Homo sapiens: one gene and its partner. The protein of the gene in region 1 interacts with the protein of each later gene in a pairwise test. Each region holds a gene or a part of one and is shown in the gene's direction. Other genes may lie near its edges.

Region 1 (3,500 bases):
TTGGAAAACCCAGGGAGTCATCTCAGAGGTCTTTAAGCTGGATTTTAAAGGATGGATAGGGATTTGTTAGGTTGAGTAGGACAGGGAGAAGGAACAGCATATTGGGAACAACATGGGCTGTGGAGCATAAGACACAGGGATGAGAGGGACAGGAAGAGTGGTCAGAAACAGCTTGTGAATAGTTGTAGGGTTTTTCTTAAAGTGTTGAGATTTCCTGTATATGATAGAAATCCAGTGAGAGTTTAGGTGGATATGGGTGAGCAAGTGGTTCATGTAACATACTTTTTCAGGAGGCACATAATGAAAATGTAGAAGCTGGATTAAAGGAGTTAGAGTTCATTTACGTCCTGTGAGAGCTCAAGTACATCAGCATAGGGGATAGAAAAGCACAGGATACCAGAATTAGGGACAGACTAGCCATGAGCTATAAAAATAGGAAAGAGTTGAGTATGATTCAGAACTTGTTTAGCTTAGAGAACTGTTGGTATGATTTAACTTGGGAAACAGAAGAACAGATTTGGACGAGGAAAGTAGAATAGTTTGATTTTTGATCCTGTTAAGTTTGACATACCTCCTGGATACTTAGGTGGATATGTCTAACAGATATCTGGACCAGAGAGCGGTTTGGGGTTTGATAGATTTGGTCATTGTATAGTTGGCATTGGAAGTTAGGGGATTACTCAGGAAGAGTGTGTGAACAAATGTTTTTCACCCTTTTGACAGAGGTAAGATCTCCATTTGAGAATCAGTTAAGAATTATGGACTCTGCTGAAGGGAATGAAAGTATGCATATATGCAAGTGTGAAACTTATGGACCACAAGAGGAGAGGACTAAGGGAACCCTAAGGAACAGCTAATATTTTGTTTTGGACAGCATTGAAATGGTTGAAGAGACAAGGGCAGAACAGGAGAGAGTAACGCTACAGATGCCGAGAGAGGTCATAGTGCCAAGAAAGAAGGAGTTTTCAGTAGTCATCATTGTGCCCAGGTTTAGGGTGGGATGAGATCTGGAAATGGGTTGATAGGATTTGACAGGTGGGGGAATGAATGCAGGGAAAATTTTTATGGGACCAGGGCATATATAAGTCAGATAGTAGATTGGGCGGAGGAGCAAATGGGAGGTTAAGATGAAGAAGGTTATAGACTACTATTTGCAAAAATTTAAACTAGAAGAGAAGGAAAGAAGGGTAATAGTTTAAAGAGGAGACAGGGTCGAGAGAAGGTAGGCACCTGTGTTAGTCACCAGCTTTGTTTCCTTAAGTCCAAAACTTTGGAAATAAATTTATAATGTATATTGCGTGTATGTTTCCAAACGTTCCCCTGATCTATTGGTTGAAATTATTGCATTTTTATTTGGTGATACAAAATTGTTTTGCCTGCGGAATTTTATGTGATTTCAAAAACAATAAAAAAAACTCTTTCTCATTAGCGATAGAGATTATCTGATGTAAAATCATAATATTACAATTTTCAGCCTTCAGTTACTAGAAGAAGAAGATTTGTCCTCATTAGCGGTAGAGATTATCTGATGTAAACTCATAATATTACAATTTTCAGCCTTCAGTTACTAGAAGGATAAGATTTGCTTTCATATGCCATATACTAGGTTTGCACTTATGTTGTGCTCCATTGCCCAAACTTTGGTTAAATATTTGATGCGGTTTTAAGTGTAAAATAGTAGCAAAGAGGAAATCATTAGACATGGTCATTTTCTTTCCAAGTTATTGCTACAAACACATAGAGACTTAATAAATTAGCCAGTGGCTCTGTGTATCCAAATACAGAGTATTACAGGTGATTAGGTGCATTGAGTGGTTGTATATAGTTTTACTAGGCAGATTTTGATTATACGGAGATAGATGTGTTAGTAATCTCTCCTAATTAAAAACCAAACAGAGATGAAGATATGACTTGACTAAGTTAAATCAAAAATTGTATTGCACTCAGCCTTTTGGGAGGCAAATATTTTTCTTCTGTAAGGTTATGTATTGTTGTTAAGTAAACACTTCAGCATCATAAAACAATATTTGATGAAGCTAACTGCCATGTTTTAGACCAGTAGTTTCCTTTGTTAATCTAAAATTATGACAATGATAACTATAGTTTATAGACTAAAGAATTGTCATTTGGTTTTTAGTTTTATGGAAACTATAGAAACTCAAAGATTTAGGGGTTCATAGCCACTGAAGAAAAAAAATGATATTGAATGCCGGTGGTGCAGTGGGCTCTGCTGCTTTACATGTGTCTCATTTAATCCTCACACCAAAATTGTGACATAGATACCACCAATTTATAAGTGAGGAAATTTAGGCATTAAAGATGATTGTAAACCCATCATTTCAAGCCAGGACTTGATGCAGGTCTGACTCTAGTTTGTATTTTTCTTTTTTTTTTTTTTTTTGAGATGGAGTTTTCACTCTTGTAGCCCAGGCTGGAATGCAGTGGAGCAATCTCGGCTCACTGCAACCTCTGCCTCCTGGGTTCAAGCGATTCTCCAGCCTCAGCTTCCCGAGCAGCTGGGATTAGAGGTACGCGCCACCATGCCTGGCTAATTTTTTGCATTTTTGGTAGAGACGGGGTTTTGCCATGTTGGCCAGGCTGGTCTCGAACTCCTGACCTGAAGTGATGTGCCTGCTTCGGCACCCCAAAGTGCTGGGATTATAGGTGTGAGCCACTGCCCCCGGCCCCAGTTTGTATTCTTACTGACACTGTGCCCTACTTCCTTTTTTTTTTTTTTTTTTTTTTTTGAGAGAGTCTCAATCTGTCATCCAGGCTGGAGTGCAGGGGCGCCATCTTGGCTTACTGTGACCTCTGCATCCCGGGTTCAAGCGATTCCCTTGCCTCAGCCTCCCGAGTAGCTGGGACTACAGGCGTGCGCCACCACACCCGGCTAATTTTTTGTATTTTAGTAGAGACAGGGTTTCACCATGTTGGTCAGGATGGTCTCGATCTCCTGGACCTTGTGATCTGCCTGCCTTAGCCTCCCAAAGTGCTGGGATTACAGGCGTGAGCCACTGCGCCTGGCCCCTTTTTCTTCTTAACACACTCTCATGGTATTATGACTTGGAATGGTCTTTTGAGGTTAATTTGATAATATAGGAAAACCCAATTGTTGGCCCAAATTTATAACCGTTTACACTAGTAGTTGATCATGTTGACATAATAGTACTAAGTGGCAGAATCTTTGTTAATATTTGTGATTCTCTTTTTGGTTATGGATCAAAAACCTCCCAAGAGTCCACATAAGAGTACTTTTCATGCTAGTCAAAAATTCAGTTCTAAAGCATTTCATTATTTTGGAAAAGGCAGTCTGTTATACATCTGTAGTCAAAAAGCAGTGTATAGCTTTCAAATTTTCTGAAACATTATCAGTGGCCTTAGAGTAAGATTCTGGTGTTGTTAAAGGCTTCTTGATGCTTTGTAAGGTCAACATTTTATGAATAATTTTCTTTTGTAGTTTTAAGGGGAAAAGACTAGTGGATCAAAACTGATTGCTCATA
Region 2 (3,500 bases), on another chromosome or scaffold:
CCTGCAAAACCTAAGGTATACAAAATCAACGCCACTGTTTATCAGTTATCAGCCAAGTCTCTTGATTGTGGATGTGTAGTTTTATAAGTCTCTTGATATTTGCTAACTATAAATTTTAAGATGTTATTGGATCCTCAAGTTGGCAAACATGGAAATGTTTGACAATCTCCAGGCTTTCTTGTGAATCACATTTTTCTCACATTACCAGAGGGTATGGAATACAGTGACAGATGCCGAAAAGTCAGCTAATCGTCACACTAGCTAAGCTGTTTGCTTTTATCCTCTGGTTTTATGACAAAAGGGGTTCAAGTTCCTGTTTCAGTGAAGTTGTGTTTTATTACATATCATATTGTGGCAGTCAGGATTTTCAAGAGACACACGAGAACCAGTAGAGGAAAGAGAGCAAGAATGTTCATGTGAGCAGGTTTTATTTTAAGAAATTGGCTCGTGATTATAGAGGCTGACAAGTTCGAAATCTGTAAGACAGACCAGCAGGCAAGAAACAGGTAAAAGCTCAAGTTGCAGTCTTGAGTTTGAAATAAGTATAGCAGGTCAGCAGTCAAGACACTCAAGCAGGATTTCTGTGTTCCAGTTTTGAGGCAGAATTCCTTCTTCTGGGAAACTTTAGTTTTGTTCTTAAGGCCTTCAACTGGCTGGATGAGCTCCACCCACATTATTGAGGGTAATCTCTTTTGTAAGGTCAACTGATTATAAATGTTAATCACATCTTTACAAAATACCCTCACAGCAACATCTAAACAGTGTTTGACCAAATAACTGGGTACTAAGGCCTAGCCATATTAACTGTCACACATATATCTTTAATGACATTCCCACATAGTTGAAGCTGAGTACGTTAAACCTACTTAGAGACTTCTGTTAAACAGAAGCAAAAAGAAAAAGAATTATACTGCTTTACTCCTAATTCACTCAGATTTCATGATCACCCTTTTAGAACTTGGTCTTTGTAGAAGATATGTAAAAATATGACTATCTTTTGCTTCTAAAAGGTCTCCTTAGAATAGACTCTTTTTTTTTTTTTTTTTTTAATGTTTTTGAGACAGAGTCTCACTCTGTCTCGCAGGCTGGAGTGCAGTGACCCACACGATCTCGGCTCACTGCAACCTCTGCCTCCCAGGCTCAAGCGATTCCACTGCCTCAGCCTCCCAAGTAGCTGGGACTACAGGCGCCTGCTACCATGCCCAGCTAATTTTTGTATTTTTAGGAGAGACAGGGTTTCACCATGTTGGCCAGGCTGGTCTCGAACTCCTGACCTCAAGTGTTCCACCTGCCTTGGCCTCCCAAAGTGCTAGGATTACAGGCGTGAGTCACCGCACCCATCCCGAATAGACTTTTGTAGTCCCTTAAGTTAACCTGTATGAAGTTATCCTCTACTGACAACATTCTTTAAAATTTCAAGTCATCAGGATGACCAAACTGAGAACCTCTTTTCCGTTTTTCTTAGATCTCAGGCCCCAATGTTTAGACCGGACACAACTCACCTCCATCCACAGCACCGTCGACTCTTGCATCAGAGACAGCAACAGAATAGAAGGTAAGTACTCATCCGATTCCTTTATGGCTTCTTAATTCAGCTTTTAATTTTAACAGTGTAACAACATGCTATTTAGTTGTTTTGTTTTTTTTAGTAAGTTTACTTCATATCCATAAACCTGGATGTATTATCAACATGTAAATATGAAAAGCATAATATTGAGTAAAGAAGCAAGGAACAGAATTATATGTACCATTTATGTAAAACTAAAAGGCACACGGAATAATACTGTGTAATATTTAAAGACAGACACACAAGTAATAAACGTAGAAAAACATTTCAGGGAGGATACATCCATACCAAGGGCATAATAGTGGTTCCTCTATGAAGGAAGAGAAGCTGGAAACTGGGTCTAGAGGGGTACAACAGGGCCTCTGTCAGTGTAGCACTGTGTTATTTTAATATTACTTTAAAATATTTGAAGCAAATTCAACCAAATACATTTTTTTCTATTGGGTCTTGGTGATGGGTAAATGGATATTTATGATAGTATTTGCTGGGCTTTTTCTCTGCATTTGAAATATTTCGTGATTTTTAATGAGTTAAAACAATTTATGTAGACTTCAGAGCTAAATCGCCTGTGTTAAAATCCCTTAGTCCACCACTAGATGTATGGCTTTGGACAAATTACTTGATCTCTCTTGGCATCGATTTGTTGTCTTAAGTGGGGAAGAGAAAACTACCTACCTCACAGAGTTATTCTAGAGCTTATACAAAAGTCCATAGGTGAATATGCTTAGCATATGGTAAGGTACTCAGGTCTTAGTTTTATTTCTTCATTATTTATTACATAGCTCTTTCCTCTTAAATTCTATTAAGACTTAGTTCTTTTTCACTCCCCTTTTAAGAAAAGCAAACGGGAATCTTTAAAAAAAAAAAAAAAAACTGGCCTGGTTTATTCCTCTGTTGTTAAAAAGCGTAATTAATTTGCCCACATGGAATGAATGTGGTGTATGTTTTTCAGTCAGCATCGGAATCTCAATGGTGCGGGAGATAGAGGAAGTCACCGGAGCAGTCATCAAGATCATCTCCGAAAGGATCCATATGCCAATCTCATGTTGCAGCGGGAAAAGGATTGGGTCTCTAAAATCCAGATGATGCAACTGCAAAGCACTGATCCCTACCTGGATGATTTTTATTACCAGGTAAATACTCTGTGCTAGTTTTGAGGATAATAGTTTGGTCCCCTACACTGGTGAGGGTATTCATTTAAATATTGGTACAATTAAATATTTGTAAAATTTTCTTTTGAGGTACTTAGCATCTTGCACTATTCACTATCAGTATATTTCTAGAGCTGAACTTGTGTTACTGTCACTGGCATAAATTATTTGATGGTAAACAACAGTCGTGTTCTGTGCTTGTGTTACAACTGAAATCATCTTCTCGTGGTAGAATTACTTTGAAAAACTGGAGAAACTGTCAGCTGCTGAAGAAATACAAGGTGATGGCCCTAAGAAGGAGCGCACCAAGCTTATCACCCCTCAGGTGGCCAAACTGGAGCACGCCTATAAGCCAGGTAAGGTCCTCATAAGAAAAATGCCCATAATAAAAGAAATTTGAGAAGCTGCTGATGTGATTAAATATAGACAAGTGTATATGTGGAAGGATATGCAAAGATGTTTCAAAGTGATTTTAAAAGTACCATTGTTCTTAATAAATGCAAAAATCAGCCTTTATTCACGTCTGGACTGAACGCTTTGACATGTGCCTTTTTAGGTCCTTTTCTACTTGAGATTTCATGATTTTTTAAATGTGTTATAATTTTCAGTACCCCTAAAATAAATAAGGGGGAAATACTTCAGATTTTTATTGTGATAATTATTGTAACAGAGAGAAAGGATAGATTTTGATAAGGGGTTGCTTTAAATAATACATTGATTTTTTGTCTTTTTTTTTTTTTTTTTTTTTTTTTTTTGAGAAAGAGCCTTACTCTGTTGTCCAG

What was found.
Region 2: the proteins of CNOT6 (region 1) and PATL1 interact in binary tests that used the Homo sapiens proteins (3 or more experiments, as listed by UniProt).

Annotation. Positions count from the first base shown.
Region 1 is NC_000005.10:180,500,879-180,504,378, forward strand, and holds part of CNOT6 (CCR4-NOT transcription complex subunit 6), read left to right. Parts: intron 1-3,500. UniProt on the Homo sapiens protein: Poly(A) nuclease with 3'-5' RNase activity.
Region 2 is NC_000011.10:59,652,038-59,655,537, reverse strand, and holds part of PATL1 (protein PAT1 homolog 1), read left to right. Parts: coding exon 1-15; intron 16-1,465; coding exon 1,466-1,555; intron 1,556-2,519; coding exon 2,520-2,700; intron 2,701-2,950; coding exon 2,951-3,074; intron 3,075-3,500. UniProt on the Homo sapiens protein: RNA-binding protein involved in deadenylation-dependent decapping of mRNAs, leading to the degradation of mRNAs. Acts as a scaffold protein that connects deadenylation and decapping machinery.